3 linked regions of the Homo sapiens genome follow. The protein of the gene in region 1 purifies or fractionates together with the protein of each later gene. This does not show direct contact. Each region holds a gene or a part of one and is shown in the gene's direction. Other genes may lie near its edges.

What was found. The genes of interacting proteins can lie anywhere in the genome.
Region 2: the proteins of ZSCAN1 (region 1) and ZNF24 purify together in Homo sapiens (affinity purification with mass spectrometry; 3 studies listed by BioGRID and IntAct, with this or other methods). This does not show direct contact.
Region 3: the proteins of ZSCAN1 (region 1) and ZNF496 purify together in Homo sapiens (affinity purification with mass spectrometry; 3 studies listed by BioGRID and IntAct, with this or other methods). This does not show direct contact.

What each region holds. Positions count from the first base shown.
Region 1 is NC_000019.10:58,051,001-58,055,137, forward strand, and holds the end of ZSCAN1 (zinc finger and SCAN domain-containing protein 1), read left to right. Parts: intron 1-1,489; coding exon 1,490-1,628; intron 1,629-2,428; coding exon 2,429-3,051; 3' UTR 3,052-3,631; downstream 3,632-4,137. UniProt on the Homo sapiens protein: May be involved in transcriptional regulation.
Region 2 is NC_000018.10:35,341,419-35,348,746, reverse strand, and holds the start of ZNF24 (zinc finger protein 24), read left to right. Parts: upstream 1-4,326; 5' UTR 4,327-4,387; exon of another isoform or gene 4,388-4,693; intron 4,694-7,328. UniProt on the Homo sapiens protein: Transcription factor required for myelination of differentiated oligodendrocytes. Required for the conversion of oligodendrocytes from the premyelinating to the myelinating state.
Region 3 is NC_000001.11:247,328,866-247,336,593, reverse strand, and holds the start of ZNF496 (zinc finger protein 496), read left to right. Parts: upstream 1-4,726; 5' UTR 4,727-4,804; intron 4,805-4,946; 5' UTR 4,947-5,162; intron 5,163-6,512; 5' UTR 6,513-6,628; intron 6,629-6,978; 5' UTR 6,979-7,015; coding exon 7,016-7,405; intron 7,406-7,727; coding exon 7,728-7,728. UniProt on the Homo sapiens protein: DNA-binding transcription factor that can both act as an activator and a repressor.

The sequences.
Region 1 (4,137 bases):
GATGTGTTTGCATTTGAAGGTACAGATAGGGCCCCGGGAATGTCTTGGTTTCTGTGCCTGACCCAAGTGTGTCGATAGCTCCTCTGATGCCCCCTGAGAGTCAGGGGAACTAAGCATGCCCCTCTCTCCACACATACATGCCACCCACTCTTCTCTCCACGCAGCCCCTCTGCTGCCCTTGATTAGTCACAGACGCCAAGGTGGGTGAAGTAGGGAAGAGCCTGACTGTCCACAATGGCCCCCAGTAGCCAGGTACCAGGAAGAGGCGTAAAAGGGAGTCCCGCCTTTACTCCTATAGATGGTGGCTCCTCTGGTTACGATTTCAGAATTCAACATGTTTTACAATCAAAACTAGCATTTGATAAGAAATAAAAATCAATAACCCAGCCAAACACACCATCCACATACTCCCAACGTGAGAGCAGGAAGAATCTTGTGCCTTAACTCCCTTCCTGCCATCAGCTCCCTCCCTCCCTCCCTCCCTCCTCCGTCTCTAGCCCAGCAATCCCTCTACTCCAGTTTTGCCCAGCTATTGGGAATCTTGGACAGCTTCCTTAGGCCCCTGTGCATCCAGGTAGGGTTGGGGCAGCAGAAAGCGAAGACCCACTCAAGACAGACCTTGTCAGTGCGTGCTTGACTCCTGGTCTTTTCTGATGCTTTGTTTGACTCAACATACCTCCTCCAACAACCTGATTTGCATTGATAAGTGTCACTGTGTTTTCCTTTGACACGACTCCGTTGCAGTTTGCCGAGCCCTTGATGGTACCAGGCTCTGGGCACGTAGCACCCACATCCTCACTGGAAACCCAGAGAGCTAAAGCTCCTCATCCAGGGCCACACAACAAGCAGGGCTGGAGCCTGGACACCAAGCCAAGCCCCTCTGTTTCGAATTCTTGCTCTTCAACCACAGCTCAGTCTCCTCCCAGGAAGTGGTGATCCCCGCTTTGGGCGGGACACGGTTAGGTGCATCAGAGGTCATAGGTCGCAGGTGGGATGTGAAGTCTGTGAAGTCGCCCACTTCCTCTGGGCTTGTGGGCAAGGACAGTGCAGCCTTGGGGGACGGGAGTTAGGAGCCCCAGCTTGTAACAGTGACCCGAGCTGTGGCACAGGTCCCCTGGCTCCATCTAATGCTCTGTTGTCACTGTCCTGAAATGATCAACGATCTTTGAACAAGGGGATTTGCATTTCCATTTTGTACAGGGGCCCCTCGAATTCTGTCTCAGGTCCTGTTAAGAGCTCTTTAGGAGTGGTTATTTATTTTTTGTATAAGCAGAGTCTTGCTGTGTTGCCCAGGCTGGTCCCAAACTCCTGGCCTCAAGCAATCCTCCAGCATCAGCATCCCAAAGCACGGGAACAACAGGCGCGACACCGCGCACTGCCCTGGGACAGAGCCTTTGGGGATGACGCCCGTTCCTTGGTTGTTCGGTGGTGGTGGGGAGGATGGCTCCTGAGGGGCAGCTGCCGAACAGTCCTGTGCTTGCCATTCTAGGCGTCTGAGCTGATTCTGGATGCAGTGGCAGCAGCCCCAGCACTCCCCGAGGAAAGTGAGTGGCTGGAGACTACCCAGCTCCAGCAGAGTCTGCACACCAGGGCGGAGGCCGAAGCGCCCCGCGCCCCTGGCTTGCTGGGTGAGTCTGGCTCCTGTGTGGATTAAGGGTTGGAAATGGAGTTTGGGACTTCAACCCAAAGCCACAGACTTTGTTAATGGGTTGAGTTGGGTGCTTCGGTGGTGAACTCCACACTTCCCCCAGAAAGCATGCACACCTCCTGTGAGGACTGAGATCTGGGGCCCCTAGAACCACCATGTACATCGTTCACCCTACGAGAAGGGCCTCAGCCTCCGCACCTGAACGGCAGCCAAGGCAGACAGTCTGAGAGTGTTGGAGCACGGGGTTACCCAGAGGGCCAGCCAGGTAGGAACAAGGGCCAGTGCTGTGGGATCTGCTCCCAAAACATGTGCCTTTTTTTTTTTTTTTCGAGACAGAGTCTTGCTCTGTTGCCCAGGCTGGAGTGCAGTGGTGTGATCTTGGCTCATTGCAACCTCCGCCTCCTGGGTTCAAGCGATTCTCCTGCCTCACCCTCCTGAGTAGCTGGGATTACAGGCGCACACCACCACGCCCAGCTAATTTTTGTATTTTAGTAGAGACGGGGTTTCACCATGTTGGTCAGGCTGGTGTCTAACTCCTCACCTCATGATCCACCTTCCTCGGCCTCCCAAAGTGCTGGGATTACAGGCATGAGCCACTGCACCGGCCACATGTGCCCTTGTATCTTAAAGGACAGAACGGAGGACACAGGGGCCGTATTGAGCAGAGGAAGGGCCTGGACTTGGCTCAGTCACTGGGGTCCTCCGTGCCCCTGGGGAGCACAGGGAGATGCCAAGGCCATCCACTCACTACAGGTGACCCATCTCCCTCGCCCTCCACAGGGTCCCGGGCCCGCTTGCCTCTGAAGCCGAGTATCTGGGACGAGCCTGAGGACCTTCTCGCAGGGCCCTCCTCAGACCTGCGGGCAGAAGGGACTGTGATCTCGAGCCCCAAGGGTCCAAGTGCTCAGAGAATCAGTCCCCGAAGGAGAAACAGGAACACTGACCAGAGCGGCCGCCACCAGCCATCCCTCAAGCACACCAAAGGTGGTACCCAAGAGGCTGTTGCAGGCATCTCGGTAGTGCCGCGTGGGCCCCGAGGTGGGCGGCCCTTCCAGTGTGCCGACTGTGGGATGGTCTTCACCTGGGTCACCCACTTCATCGAGCACCAGAAGACCCATCGCGAGGAAGGGCCCTTTCCGTGCCCCGAGTGTGGCAAGGTCTTCCTGCACAACTCCGTCCTCACTGAGCATGGCAAGATCCACCTGCTGGAGCCACCGAGGAAGAAAGCCCCCCGGAGCAAGGGCCCCCGGGAGTCCGTCCCACCCAGGGATGGAGCCCAGGGCCCAGTGGCCCCTCGCAGCCCCAAAAGACCCTTCCAGTGTAGCGTCTGCGGGAAGGCCTTCCCCTGGATGGTCCACCTCATTGACCACCAGAAGCTCCACACGGCCCACGGCCACATGTGAATGGCCAGCCTCGGGCCTCGGCCACCCGGCCCTGAGTCCCTGGGGGGAGCTGATGGGCCCCAGAAGATGGGGGACATCCCCCAGCCCCACCAACCCCTGGCCACCTTGGGACTCCTCTTGAAGGACACAAGCTGTTTCTCGGAAGACCCTGGACACCTGCTCCGAAGCCAAGCACGGGATGGGGCTTCCCAGGGTCTCAGCTGAGAAGCAGCAGTTCCACAGCACAGCCTGGTCAGTCCTGCGCACTATAGTTTTGCAAGTGGCTTGAAGAGGAGTTTCATTCGCGTCCCATCTTTCAGAAGCCTTGTCCAGGTCTCCCTGTTAGCACCTGACTCAGCGGCAGCTTCTGCCGCTGGGTTTTCATTTCACTGTGGATATCCCTGAGGCCATGAGGGTGGGAGCCGGCCTGGGCAGCTCCAACTCCAGAGAAGGGTACAGCTGACCCCGGCTGCCCTCCTGCCAGCTTAGCCCCCTTGGAACCTAACAGATAAACAGGGTTTTGTTTTTTTCCTTTTTTGGGTAAAGTACATGCAACATAAAATTTACCATTTCAGTCATTAAAAATGAACAGTTCAGTGGCATTAAGCACATTCACAACACTGTGCAACTACCAGCACTCTCTAGCTCCAAAGATGTTTTCGTCTTGCCCAGAAAGAGAGCCCACAGTCCTCAGCACGCCTTCGCCATTCCTGCCCGCCCTGACAACCAGAATCTGCTTCCTGTCTCTGAGGATTTCAGGCGCAGTCTTTAGGCCTGACCAAAACTGACCTGCCTGTATTTTGTTTGACTTACAGAAGGATTTTTTTTTTAGATAGATGCCAACATTTGTTTAAACCATAAAAATCTGGCTTTCTGGTCTGCCAGGAAGGATCAGATGGTCTCCAAAGAGTGGGCCCGCCTCTCCTGCTAGGCTGGAGCAGAGTGTGGGCAGGCGGTGACGTCACAGCGGGGAGCCAGCCTCGGACTCGGCTTCTCACCCGTCCCCAACTCATTGTTGTCGGACACTCGTCCCCTTTCAAGCAAAAGCCTTAAAAGTTTTTGCCTTTTTCTTTTTCTCCTCCCGACTTCACTTGGAAACACAGTGTT
Region 2 (7,328 bases), on another chromosome or scaffold:
GAACTATTCTGTGTCATGATTTTGGTGGTCGTTTCACAAATCTAAAACTCAGAAATATCTGCCCCCCCAAAAGTGCCATATTTTGCTGTCTGTTAATTTTATTAAGAGAAGAACTCCATAAATAGAGAACAAATAATGAAACAAATAAACAAAGCCAAAAGTTGATTCTTTGAAAAATTAATAAAATTGATAAGCCTCAAGCAAAACTTGAAGTCTTGATTAAGAAAAAAGAAACCAGAAATTAGCAATGTCAGGAATGAAAGAGGGGACATCCCTACAAACATTAAAAAGATATTAAGGAACTCACATTAATGATATTAAGGAAATAATTGTGAACAACTTTATGCCAATAAATCTGACAACTTAAATGAATTAGACAGATTTCTTCAAAGATACAAACCATTTCCCCTTATATCTCATGGACCAGAAATGAATCACATACTCATTCCTCGGTGCCAGCAAGGCAAAGCGAGGGTCTGGCACAGGGAAGCAGAATGGTCATGGATAGCTTAGCTCAATTACACTTTATTGCTTACAGCTGGGCACACTGTTCCCCCTCTCCATCCAAAAAAATCAGGAGTGTATTAGAAGCAAGGGAAAGCACTTTGTGTGGGAAGCTAACGATGCTTGCCTATTAGGTTTTCAGTCACTTGCAATCAAAAGACTCCTCATACTGTATACTTACTAGCTAAAATGGAATCTTTAAGCAATGTACTTAAAGTGCCCAGAGGGAGATACTTTTGAGCTGAAGGGGACTGAGAGCTCCAAAGCCTGGAAAAAAAATCAGTCTTGGATGGAATCTGATAACACCAAATCTGAAGGTCTATGCTTTCCTTCCAGTGTGAACACTTTTTTTTTTTTTTTGATCAGGATCTCACTCTGTCCACAAGGCTTAAGTACAGTGATGCGATCAGAGCTCACTGCATCCTCAACCCCTCAGGTTCAAGAAATCCTCCCACCTCAGTCTCCTGAGTACCTGGGACCAAAGGTGCAGGCCACTATGCCCAGCCTGAAAACTTTTCTGGCTGGCTTCCTCCATTTCAGGGTGCCTCCCTTCCCTCTTAGCACACTATCTCATTTAGGAGCCCTTACAGGCCTTCTGCTTTTCTCTACTGTAGCACTTCTACACTGCCTTGTGAATACTTGTTTTTTTCTGTTGTTGTTGTTTATTTCCTTAACAAGATGGTAATGTTAAAAGAAGGAATCAAACTGGACATGGTGGCTCACAACTGTACTCCTAGCGTTTTAGAAGGCTGAGGCGGGAGGATCCCTACCAGGAGTTCCAGGCTGCAGCAAGCTGTGATTATGCCACTGCACTCCAGCCTGGGCAACAGAGTGAGATCTCATCTCTTTTAAAGGGAAAAACAAAGACGGAATCATGACTTCATTTTATTCATCTCTATTATCTCTGGTACCCAGGTAGTATCTGTCTGGTCATTTTGTTCGTTTTACCATTAATTAATGAATCAGATGTTTGGTATCAAGGCAAGGTTGAAAGATTTGGCTGGTAAAGAAATGAACCCTTTTTGAATTTAGACATATTATTATTTGCACAGACATTGAAAGCAAAAGCAAGTGCCAGCTCTCCATGAGCTTTTGTCTCAGATACCAAAATGATGACACCAAAACAGAAGGGGCTGGATGACTACAGCATACACTGTGGACACCTTGTTGCTGAGGGGTTAATGCCATGCTGCAGCTAAGCCTTGTTATAACCTGCAGCTGTACTCTAAGAGGGTAAGGCAGAATGGCTCGTTGGAACCCAGGAAGCAATAGAAACTGCCTCATGATAGTCTCTTTGGAAGACAGAGAGCTGAGTGGGAAATGGCCTTGCACTAGCTGCTTACAAGCCTCTCATGCACTCATCTTCTGGGAAGATCCCAAGGTGTTCTGCCAAGACTCAGATCAGCTGTGGTTCAGGCATTGCCTATGTGGCCTATGTGGATATGTGCAAGGTTGTCAGGCCCGGGTATGAAGCTGCTCCCTCCATTCAGGTTGTCCAGAGGAACATGTTTTATCTTGACTAGATCTTTAAGATGGCAACAAGGGCCACCATTCAGGAAAAAATCCCAGAGGACCTCAGAAGGATGGTGTTTCAAAGCGGGTGTTAGTAGCCCCTGCCCTCAAAGGAGTAACTTAGTGAGGAAAACCTTACTGTGGTTTCCATTTAGTAGTTTACAAATAATTAATAATAATAGAATGGAGGCCAGGCACGGTGGCTCATGCCTGCAATCCTAGCAATTTAGGAGGCCAAGGCAGGAGGGTCACTTGTGCCCAGGAGTTGGAGAGCAGCCTGGGAAACATAGGAAGAACTCATCTCTGAAAAACAAACAAACAAACAAACAAATTAGCTGGGCATGGTGGAGCACACCTGTTGTTTAAGGACTTATCAAAAGTGTAAGTCCAGCCTTCCATAAGCATTTCAAGATAAATTATTACAGCATAAAATGGAGGCCTTTAAATAGGAGAATGAAGTGGTTTGATTTGTAATTTTAAATGATTGCATCAACAGCTGTTTTATGGTATAAAATGCCCAGTTAGGAGGCTGAGGCGGGAGGATCACTGAGTCTGGGAGGTTGAAGCTGCAGTGAGCCAAGACTGCACCATTGCCCTACAGCCTGGGTGACAGAGCAAGACCCTGTCTCAAAAACAAAACAAACAATATAATCACAGGAAAAGGGTTTTGTAAAATTTTGCAACATTTTTAACTTCCTCAAGGTTAGGTTTCAGATTTATTATTTTTGTTTTCCAACATTAATTAGATGTAAAAACTCTTAAAACAAAAATGCCTTCAGCTAGCCTTTACAAATCAGATAAGAGGGAAAGGTTGGGAAGAGCAGCCAAGTTGCTTAGGGGCCGTATCCAAGTAGCAGAGTGAAAAGGCTGTACTTCTGAAGCTTCCTGCAATGGAGAGAAGTGTTAGCAGGGGTTGTGAGAAGAGCTCTGGTCGGAATGAAAAGCAGTGGTATACCATCAGCTGCTCGCTCACTTGCTCTCTCATGCACGAATCCAGCGGAGCCTGACGGCACTTTTCAGAGGGCATTTTCTCCAATGAGGCAAAAAGTCAAAGCCTGAGGATCTTGAAATGCTTATGTTAGGCTGGATCTACACTTTTGACCAGTCCTTAAACAACAGGGCTCCTTTGTGTGGTGTCTGATGCCAATCATGTGACCTAGCTAAAGGCAGCAATGTAACCATCCCACAATTCATTTATTTATTCAACAAATATTTATTGAGTTCTCTATTTACCAGGCAGTCAGCTTCCAGGATCTAGGATGGGATACTGTGGTGAGCAAGACAGACAAGGTCCCTGCCCTTAAGGGACTTAAAGACAAAACAAAACAAAAAATAAAACAAGTAAATAAATGAGATCACTTCCATTAATAACAGTGCCATGAAGGGTCATGCGCCATGAAAGGCAGGTGGTGAGGCTGAGGATCTTGGGCCACAATGAGCCGAGGAGCTGAGGTGACTGGGGGCGCCAGGGTCTGGGGGTGCGGGCAGGCAACAGACCACAGGGGACTTACAGGCCATTATAAGGAGTTTTTATGTCATAAATTATTATGACATAAATTGGAGGGCTTTAAATAGGGGAGTGAAGTGGTCTGATTTGTAATTTTAAATGATCGCGTCAGCAGTTGTTTTATGGTATAAAATGCCCAGCTTTAAGATGACCATGCATTCTACAAATTCACCGTGACATCACTGCCAAAACTCTTAACCTGTCTTATCTAGTTTTCCTGACAGATAAATAGGTCGGAATAAAGCTCCATGACATAACTAGTGGGAGCCAAAGATTTGAATCACGTCTTGGTTTCAAATCTTGCTACCCACAAATGAGTTGTGAGCTCTTGTCAGGTTATTTACTGTATTTGTGCCTCAACTATCTCAGCTGTGAAATGGGGATAATGAAAGTTCCTACATCATTTATTTGTGGAAAAAAAAATGACATGTAAAGCACGACGAGAGCGCCTGGCACAATGTAGTAAGCTTTCACAAACACTCACTTTCATTCCTTCTTGCAGGGGATTACTGAGAGGATCCACAAGATAATGCACGTGAAAGGGCTTGCGAAATTGTAAGGACTATCTTAATGGTAGAGTCCTCTTTATGTTTTCTTTTAAACGGTCCAGAGGACGCTGGGCTGTTCGAGGAGAGGCGCGAGGCCAAGCGCAGCCTCAATGCGGTCATTGTCGTGGGGCCGCCCCTCCCCCGCCCGGGGCGCTTCTCCATGGCAACGTGGGCTTTACCTCTCCCCGCCTCCTCAGGCCCGCAGACCGGAAGCAGCCCGCGCCGGGGGCTTCTGGGAAAAGGCTTGTGAACGGCGTTTCTGCGTCTGCCGTGGACAGCGAAGCTGCTGCGGTTCCTGAGCCGGAGGTTTGCGCCGGTGTGCGGGGAACGTTATGAGAGGGAGGGGGGACACCGGGCTAGGGTCTGCGGACCTCTTAGCAGGAGCCGGCGGGGAAGCCTGTCCGGGACCTTCCTCAGCTTCCCGGGAGGCGCGGGGAACAGGCCGCGGTCTCCGCGCCTAGCAGTTGTGGGGCGGGGAGGGGTAGGCGGCAGGCCTGCTTGGGTCTTCGGCATTTGCAGAGAGCTCTCTAACCCCCTGTGTCCTCCGAGACCCTCACCTTCCCCCTCCCCCACCGGCCGGTTTTGTTCTATTTCGAGGCCCTGGCGTCTCGCGGAGGGTTCTGGGAGTCGTGATGGGAGGGGGTGGTAGTGGGACGAGACTTGCGCGGGGCTTCTGGGATTTGTAGTCTCACCGGCCGCAGGCGGAAGTGCCGTGGTTCCGACGCTGTTGTCACAGGGTGGCCTTTGGTCATCTGAAATCCGCGGTCCTGAGTGCTGGGAAGAGGGGCTAGAGGACGTCGGGCCGGGGCCGGGGCCGGGGCCGGGATACACAGCAGGTCTATGCAGCAGTAAGGTGGGCGATCCACCTGGGACGAGGTACCCTGCCCAAACATTGTCGGGACCGTGGGCCTTCCCTCCATTTCCCACAAGCGGTATGCTCTACAGCATAAAAGGAAGAGAAAATTATGTAGAAATACTTGCACCGTTGATAAGCAGGGTCTTGGAATAGGAACGAATGAATGTTGGCTAGACCTTATGTATAAGGCCACCACACTCCAGGGTATTTAATTAAACCAGTATGTATTACTTGTCTGATAAGGCCTTTTCTGATTCTAGTCTTCATCTTGCTTGGGTTACAATAAGTTTTTTTAAGTTGTTATTGTTCAGATTTTGGGCCCTGAATAAATAAATAGGCTGAATGGCTCATTGCTAGTATGTGTCGTAAACAACAGCACGGGCATGATCGTGCAAATAATAAAGGTCCAGAAGCAGTATACAGTTTCACTGAAGGTAGAAGCTGGGGAAACTGTGAGTCCTCCAGTGTAAGGACAAGACACTGGACCACTGCAGGAAGTCAAGGTGCTTATGCGAGTGCCTTTTCTTAATAGAAGTTTCTGTGATTAATGCCTATCATTATAAATATAAATGTACGTATGGTGTGGTGGAAGACTGAATATTTACGTATTATGTGCAAGATAATTTTTCAAAATTATGTGATGTTTTTCACATATGATCTTTTCAATATTATGTGATCTGCTACTCAGCAAGTGAACATTTTTTCACATATAAGTCCAAGGAGTTCTTAAACACCTTAAAAATATTTTTTAAATGGTAAAGAAAATTTTTTTAAGCACATAATAATAAAGCGAACCTTCCTTTTGAGTTGACTTGTGTGTGTCAGGAAACACCAATCCTGAATTGGAAATAATGCGTTCCAGGGTCAGGCACATTTAGAAAGCACTGAAGTAGTCTGGTTCTTACTTGGATTCTTTTGATTATTGACATAGGGTTTGTCGTCTTAGTAGGTCATGATTGGCAAACTTTTTCTGTAAGCGGCCATATAGTAAATAAGGTCATGCATAACTCAACGATAGTGCTATGGTCTGAGAAATATGTTAGGCTATTTCATCCTTGTGTGAACGTCATAGAATGTACTTGCACAAACCTAAATGGCGTAGCCTACTACACACTTAGGCTATCTGGTATAGCCTATTGCGCCTAGGCTACAAACCGGTACGGCATGTTGCTGTACTGAATACTGTAGAGAATTGTAACACAATGCTAACTATTTGTGTATCAAAACATAGAAAAGATAAGAGTAAAATATGATATAAAATGTTTGAAAAAAAAAAAAGATATGCCTGTACAGGGCACTTACCATGAATGGACCTCGCTGGATTGGAAGTTGCTCTAAGAAGTCAGTGAGTGAGTGGTGAATTTGGAGGCCTGGGACATTATTGTACATTCCTATAGACCATATAAACACTGAACACTTAGGCTACACTAAATTTATTAAGAAAACATTTTTCTTCAATAATTAACCTTAGCTTACTGGAACTTTTTCACTTACAAACTTTTACATTTTTTTTTAACTTTTTTACTCTTTTGTGATAACACTTCACTTAAAATACAAACACATTGTACAGCTGTACAAATATATTTATATCCTTATTCTGTAAGCTTTTTGCTTTTTTTTTTTTATAGACAGAGTCTCGCTCTGTCGCCAGGCTAGAGTGCAGTGGCGCGATCTTGGCTCACTGCAGCCTCCACCTCGCGGGTTCAAGAGATTCTCCTGCCTCAATCTCCCCAGTAGCTGGGACTACAGGCGCAATCCACCACGCCCAGCTAATTTTTGTATTTTTAGTAGAGACAGGGTTTCACCATGTTGGCCAGGATGGTCTTGATCTCTTGACCTCGTGATCTGCCTGCCTCAGCCTCCCAAAGTGCTGGGATTACAGGCCTGAGCCACCGTGCCCGGCACAGCTTTTTGCTATTTTTAAATTCATTTTTTAGAGACAGGGTCATACTCTGTTGCCCAGGCTGGAATGCAGTGGTGTGATCATAGCTCAGTGGAGCCTTGAACTCCTGGTCTTTAGTGATCCTCCTGCCTCAGCCTCCTATAGTGCTGGGATTACAGGTGTGAACCATTGCACCTGGCCAATTTTTTTTTTCTTTTGGAACTGTTTTTGTTAAAAGCTAAGATAAACACATTAGCTTAGGCTTACACAGGGTCTGGATTATCAGTATCATTGCCTTCTACCTCCATATCTTGTCCCACTGGAAGGTTTTCAGGAGCAGTAACATACATGGAGCTGTCATCTCCATAATAACAGTGCCTTCTGTAATACCTCCTGAAGGACCTGCCTGAGGCCATTTTGCAGTTAACTTTTTTATTTAGTAAGTAGAAGGAGCACACTCTAAAATAATATAGTATAAAAAGTATAGTAAATACATAAACCAGTAACATAGTCGTTTAT
Region 3 (7,728 bases), on another chromosome or scaffold:
CCTCCTCTGCAGGGGGTGATGTCACAGTGGAACGGCTGCCCACCTGGGGGGCGATGTCACAGTGGAACGGCTGCCCACCTGCAAAGCACTGGGGCTTTAGGTTACACATCACATTTCCTTGTGCACACTTCACTTTCCAGGTTATATATAATTCACCCTTTCCTTTGTTATCGTCCATTCACCTTTCCACTCTGCAAGATGGCCGTCTCACGCCCTCTTCCTCCTGCTCTCACATTTCACCCTCTCTTTCTCCCTGTCACTTAAGGGCCCTGTGTAGCAGTCAGGGTTCTCCAGAGAAACGGAACAAATAGCATGTGGAGTGGGGGGAGGGAAGGGGGTGGGGATAGAGAGCTAGAGATCAATAGAGAGAGATGAGGGAGACTGTTTTCTTTTAAGGAACTGATTGGCTTGCAAGTCTAAAATCTGCAGGGCAGGCTGCAGATCCAGAAAGCCGAAGCTGCAGCAAGTCGGAAGGCGCGCCGCAGGGGGAGTTCCTTCCTCAGGAGACTGCAGTCTTTGCTCTTACGGCCTTCGACAGATTGGATGAAGCCCGCCCACGCTATGGAGGGTAACCCGCTGCATTCAAAGTCTACAGATTTAACTATTAATCATATCTAAAAAACAGCCTCACAGAAACACCAGACTGGTGTTTGAACAAAAACTGAGTACCACAGCTAGCCAAGTTGCCTCATAAAATAAAACGTCACACTTGCTCCTTATTTTACTGGAGTGTTGGCAAAGTTGGAAGAAGCCTGCCCCAGGCTCTCCCTGCCCAGATGCTGTGGACATGCCTCAGGTCCAGAGGCAGCCTTCCCTGCCCTCCGGCTCCCCGTGGGCCCTGGGTGCCAGCCCTCCCTCCTCCAGGCGATGCACTGCAATTTCTCCCATCTTTAAGATGAGACCGTTTTTCTCCACAGGGCTGTGTCCACTCTCATCTCCCTTCTCTTCCAGAAAGTGCCCTAGCCCAGGAGCTCCACTGTCTGCTTTGCTCAGGGGCCTCTCTACCAGATTCAATGGGCAGTGTTCTTTCCTCATCGGATTTGATCTTGGCGCAGGATTTATCCCCCTGACCTCTTTCTCTCCTTGAAACACAGGTGCTCACTTGGATTCCAGGGCTCCACACCTGCAATTTTCCTTTTATCTCAAGGCGGCAGCAGCTCTCCCTACCCCCTTCTCTTGCCCTCGTCCTCCCTCACTTTCCTCCTCCTACTTCCCCTTCTCTCCCTTCTCCTCCACTAACCCCTTGGGCTCCCACGGTCCAGGGCTGGCATTTCGCAGGGTCTGCCCTCCCTGGGGCTGCTTCTCAAAACACACTCAACCCTCTCAAGCCCCAGCTCCTGCTACATACGGTGACTCCAGATTTCCACCTCCAGCCACAGCTTTCTATCCCAGAGGGTCATCCCCACTTGTCTCCTGGGCATCTGAAAACCAGCAAGTCCCAAATCCACCAATTCAACCCCAAACCCAACCCCTTCCTGGAAACCTGCTTCCTTGCATCTGCCATCTCTAGAAGGCCTGTTCAGTCACCCAGTTTCAGCCCCAGTCACAGCCGTTCCTCACTCCTCTAACACAGGCAGCATGCCTTCAACACAGAGCCTGGATTGGGCCTACTGTTCACCAGCTGTGCCTCCACCAGTCAACTCCAGGAACCGAGCATCTCCTGCCGGGATCTCTACAACGATTCCTAACAGAGACTCTGCTTCATCTGTTCTGCACAGTGATCTTGATAAAATCAAGATTCCGTTAGGCCACACTCCTACTTGAAACCCTCTAATGACTATAACATCTGGTGACCTGGTTCCAGCCTCACCATTCTCTCACTATTCCTCTGCCCAGCTGAGCAAGCACACGCTGTTTCCTCTGCTGGAATACTCTTCCCACACACCTCTGCTCAGGAGCCCCCCACCTGCTCTCCACTCAAATGTCACCTCCTGACAGAGGCCCTACCTGAACATCCCCAGCACACTCTTCCCCACCATGTTGTATTTCTTTCATGACACCGATCACCAATGGCGTTATATTGCAGAATCGCTGATTTATTATTTGATTCCCCTCCCAACTCCTTGGATCATTCTTCTATGGTCTCCCCATGGATCGAATAATCATTGGCACATAGCAAACATTTCATAAAAACAGATACAATTGGCAACATTATATTCATACAAACCTAATACACGCACACACTGGGCATGATGATGGTGCAGTCCTTGAGCAGGGTTTACAGGCAGGATCCTCTTCCCGATGCTTCACCCGTGGTATCTGATACAACCCCACTTCATTCAGAGGCGAACACCTTCCCCACGGGCTCCTGTGCCCCCACCCAGCTCTATGCCATCCCTCTCCTCTCACTCACCAGCCCACCTTGCTTCGCACCGCTCCCCCTTAGGGCCTTTGCTGTCAAGGTGGTCTCCATGTGTCAAACAGGGACTCTGACCAACTACTTCATCTCAAATACCACCTTCACAGTAAGGCCTGCCTGCCCTCCTCTTTAATACCATGACTGTTACCAGCCCCTCCCCAGCACTCCTGACTTCCTGATGCCTCTCCACTTTCCTTTTTTTCTGTAGCACAGATCAAAGAGAGCAGGTCATGTTACTGATTTTGCTTCCTCCAATAGCCAGTTGTGTTCACAGATGTACCTGAGCACCTGGAAGGCTGGCTGCCTAGCACTCATGAGTGTACAGTAGGTACTCGGTATAGGTTTGCTGAATGACTGAATCTTTGATCCTGCACAACCATCCAATGAGGTAGACAGCATCATCCCTGTTTTCTGGATGAGGAAGTTGAGGTACAGAAAGGTTATGTAGGCCTGAGGTCACCTGGCTAGGAATTCATAGGGCAGGATTTAATCCGGGTGCCTGAGTCCAGAACCTTGACTCTGAAGCCCTGTTTTGAGCTAAATGCAGCAGCAGCATAAACAGCCCGTTTTGTGCCTCAAAAGGTGAACAGTGGGAGGCACAGCTGGGCAGGGACGTGTCAGGTCAGGGGAAGAAACTGAATTGGGTAGTGGGGATTAATTGGATGCTGTCTGCCAGCAATTTCTGCCTCCTGCATTTTATCTGCTTTAGGGTTGCAAGGGGCAGAGCTATGAACACGGATGCCCACTCAACAGCCAGTTCCTGGGCCAATCAAAGGGTTGGGAGCTGTAGCACCAGAGCTCTGGAACCCCACAGACTAGGATGTTTGCTAGAGCACCTAAGCCCTACCAGCCTTTGATGACCCCTCGGTTCCTCCCAATTCCTCTCCTCCATGTCACGGTTCCTGGCTGGTGTTCCTGAGAGTGGGCTGTACATGAGTTCTGTAAATGCCAGTCCAGTTACGTCAAAGGGGGTGGCTCTCACTTGTACCTGTAGGCTCCAGCTAAGATCTGCGTGGCCCTGCCCGGCATCTGGCTGTCATCCGGGAAACAATCACTGTTCACAAACAAGGGCTTCACTCCTTCGCTCGCTCCATCTCCTGCTAAAGTCAGAATGTGAACACTGACAAACAGCGGCTCCCAGTAACTCTGCTAGTCAGAAGTGATTATTCCAGCAGTTCAGAGGAGGAAGTGGCGGTGCCCAGGGCCACGGGATTAGAAGAGCAACGGAGCTAAAGGATCCCGTGCCTCAGTCCAACCACCTTGTTCCCACTTACTCAGCCGGGCCACTTTCTTTGGAGAAACTGATTTCCTTCTGCTTGCCCTTGAAAGGGGATCCGAAGGAAATCGGAGCTACCGGCAGTAGCTACCCTCCGGAAGACGGAGAATCTTCTCCACCTTCTCCTCTGCGTAGGAGAATCCAATTTCGGTGCAGAGCAGATGGCGAAGGGGCCATGGGAATCAGACCTGCTCAGGGACCGGGTTCGCACTTTCTCTCAAGCTCTGGAGCCTGAAAAATGAGCATTCCCCGGGGACGACCCATGTAAGAATTTGGGCTATATTCAGCATAGTGCAGCGGCCAGCAGCCCTGTCTCGGGGTGGGGTCCGGAGGCCCCCATTTCTGCTTGCCCCTCACTGCCACATAACCTTGGGTCAGAGTCCCTCATCCTCTCCCTCCGCCACTGTGCACAGCTGCAACCGTGTTCACTTCAGCGAGCAACGAGCCCCGTGACCCCCACTCAGGGTCAGGACTCACCGCAGCCCCTCTGCGCAAGCCCCGAGGCTCTGCGTGGCCTCCGGATGCGCGGCCTTTCCTAACCCGGGGACTCCGCACGTGGGCGCCAGGCCCGGAAGGCGCGGATGTGAGCGCTACCTTCGGCGTCCCGCAGCGGCAGGAGGGGCTGGGCGGCCCGGGCTTCGGCTGGCGGCGGGGGGGGGGTCGCAGGGGAGTCTGAAATGAGGCGGCCGACGGCGCGCGGGGCCTCCTCTCTCCGCTCCATCCCGCACCCCCAATTCCAGCTTCCATCCCCAGCCGCGACTCCCGGTCGGCCGTTCCGGGCGTCCACTGGCCGCGTGTCCTGGGGGCGCCAGAGAAGGAGAACAGCGGAGAAAAGAGCCCCGGGCCGACCTTCCGGACCGGCGGGCCCGCGGGGAAGCCCGGGCGCGGCGACGTGGCTGACCCACAAAGCCCCCGGCCCGGCGGCCAGGCCCAGGCGCGCGCGGAGCGGGGCGGGCCGGGGGTGTCGGATGTCACCCCCAGCGCACACCTCGGCCGGGGGGCGGGGGAGCGAACCACTGAGATGCGGAGACCTCCCCAGTCCTAGAGCGGAGCAGGAAGTGTCCCAGGGGAGGGAGCCGGAGGGCTCCGGCCTTTCCTTTCCTCGGCGTCCGGCGGGCTCCCGCGGCGGCCAGGCCTGCGCCGCCCGCCAACAGGGACGCGCCGCGGCGGTGAGTGCACCCCGGCTCCCGCGGCCGGCCCCGCCCCGCCCTCCTCGGCCCGCGCCCGGCCTCCGCGGCGCCGCCTCCCAGCCCAGAGCCCAGCGCTCAGGAAGGTGCGGGCGGGGGAGAAAGCAACACCATTGTTTTTCAGGCGCCTCCATTTGCCCCCGAGCCGAGCCGTGGCTTTCCGGATGATCGGGAGACGCGGTCTGGACGGGCCGGGAAAGGAGCCGGGCGCCTGCGGAGACCCCGCCTCAGCGAGTACGCCCGGCCGGGCGGGCTGGGAGGATGAGGACGGCTGCCCTGGACTTCCGCCGCCACAGGAGGGTTTTCGGCCGGACGCCGGGAGGGAGCTCCAGGCTGTGAGGTGAGGAGCCCGGAGCCGGCGAGACGGGAGACGCGCGTGTGAGGGAGACCGAGGGCGCGGAGGGCGGGCTCCCCCTTCCCTGGCCCACAGCGACCTTCTCCTTCCCTTTCTGCCGATCCAGCTCGGTCCCTCCTCCGCGAAAGGCTGGGAGCTCGCTCCGCCCCTGCGGGGCCCTCCTCCGCCTCACTCACGTTAGTTCATTCATCAGGCATCTCCTCCGAGCCTCCGACGCGCCAGGTGCCGCCGTGACAAAGACGGACGCGGCCGTCTGGTTGGAGACGATCCGAGTGGCAGCCCGGGTGGGCGCCGGTGCTCGGGGGGGCGGGCCTGAGTAGTCCTGGGCGCTGCAGGTGTGTGATGGGCGCCGCAGGGGGCCGCCGAGCAGGGCGGGCGGGGCCCACCCCGGGCTCCAGATGCCGGAGCCGCCCTGGAAGCGATCCGGTGGTGGGGAGCGCTGTAATGCGTCCAGCCCGACGCCGCCACGGCCCCCATATGGGTTTCTGTGTATGTTGTTACTTTGGAAAGCAAAGAGATTCAGAGCAGTGGGTGTTTCTGGAACCACTCAGTTGTTCCGTAGCTTTTCTGGCATCACTTGTCTTTCTGTGAAATGGGAGTGAGGCCCGAGTCCCCCTTCCCACCTTGTGAGCTGTTGGAGGTTAAGACGCGGCCACGCTGGACAACCTCGTGCAGATGGGGGAGTGGCAGGCACTGCCGGTCCTAAGGATCACAGAGGCCTGATGGCAGAGAAGGGGACTGTGAGTGTCCCCATGTGCCCTTTCACGGGCCCAGCGTTCTAAAGTGGGAATCATAAACACCAGGTATACTGGTTGCTGGTCTCTTGCCACCCTAGTTGTGGCAAAAGTGTCGGCTAGTTGTCTGCACACCAGCGGGGAGGTGTAGGGACCCCTGAGTCCCACCTTGGGGGTGTGGCAGCTGCAGTGTCCAGGGGTTCTTTGAGGGCTGAGCTGTGCAGTGACGGACCCACTTTTCTGTCCTGGCCGAGGAAGGGCTTTGGCGAGTGTGCAGTTGCCTTCAATGTGGTTTGAAGAGGGCAAGGATAGAGAATAGGGTGGAGGCGAGGTTGAAGGTCAGGGCAGAATTGGCAGAAGGCTCATAGGAAACCACTGATACTTCTAGATGCAGTGTTATTTGTCCCTGGTAGACTGCATGTAGCTGTCTCATGTGATGTTTTCCCTTGCCTCCCATTGCAGACTCTGCTGGGCAAAGCTGATTCTGGCTGGGTTGTCCATCCAGCACGCAGCACCATCAGCCCTCTGCCACCAGAAGGGTGGATTTTCCATTCCTGGATGTGCTTGAAGGCTCATCCGATGCATGTCTTTGTCATTCCAGCTCCATTTGTAAAGGTCTTAATAACAAGAACAGTGACTTCGGCTCCGGAGCTTCAAGATAGTGGCCTGCTTGGCCTGCCCATCTCGGATCTCTCCAGGAGGACCCAGCCACCCAAGGTACCAGAGCGTCTTGATTACATCTGCATGTGGCGCTGTTGGTTTCCTGGGATGCTCAAAACAGCAGTGTCACGTTGAAATGCCACCACTTTCTCCCAGATTTCCTGTCTTGTTCATCCAGTCACCCACTTAACGGGAATCCACACGTAATGGTACTGATGGGGGGAGGGCATCTTTCTGTCTGTTTCATCCTGTGTGTAAAGACCAGCCACACCAACACTCCCTACCTTTCCCAGGGCTTCTCCAAAGGGCTGGTCTCTGAGGGCATTGACAGTTTCCTTGTCACTGTCCCCCAGAAATGACCACAGGAGACCAGAACACTGAAGCCAGTGATTTCTGTTTGGAAATAGGGTCGTCTTCTGCTGCTGACCCCCATCAAATCCCATCATGCCCACAGCCCTGTGCCCCCGAGTCTTGGCTCCGAAGGAAAGTGAGGAGCCCAGGAAAATGAGGAGCCCACCTGGAGAGAACCCTAGCCCCCAGGGGGAGCTTCCCAGCCCCGAGTCCTCTCGGCGTCTCTTCCGCCGTTTCCGCTACCAGGAGGCGGCGGGCCCCCGGGAGGCCCTGCAGCGCCTCTGGGACCTGTGCGGGGGCTGGCTGCGGCCTGAGAGGCACACCAAGGAGCAGATTCTGGAGCTGCTGGTGCTGGAGCAGTTCCTGGCCATCCTGCCCCGGGAGATCCAGAGCTGGGTGCGGGCGCAGGAGCCTGAGAGCGGAGAGCAGGCTGTGGCCGCGGTGGAGGCACTGGAACGGGAGCCCGGGAGACCCTGGCAGTGGGTGAGTAGAAGAGGTGGGGCTGGGACGGGTAGAGATCTGGTACTTAGACACTTTGGCTGGGCCATGCATGTGCTGGCTGGGGAATGAGGAGTTCCATCGAGAGCCATTTACTTTGGTTAGGTCCAGACTAGAGTTTCCTAAGAAAGCCAGTTTTACTCCCTGAAGGCTCTAATTTGGGCATGATAGTGTCGTGCCCCTTTACAGCCCAGTCCAAGGCCTAAGTTGAGCCTTTGATGGTCAGCTGTGGAGTGGATGGTCACCAGGCCCAGGGAGAGATGGGACCTCTTCCCCTAGCCCTGAAAAGCTGTCTCTGGGATTGCAGC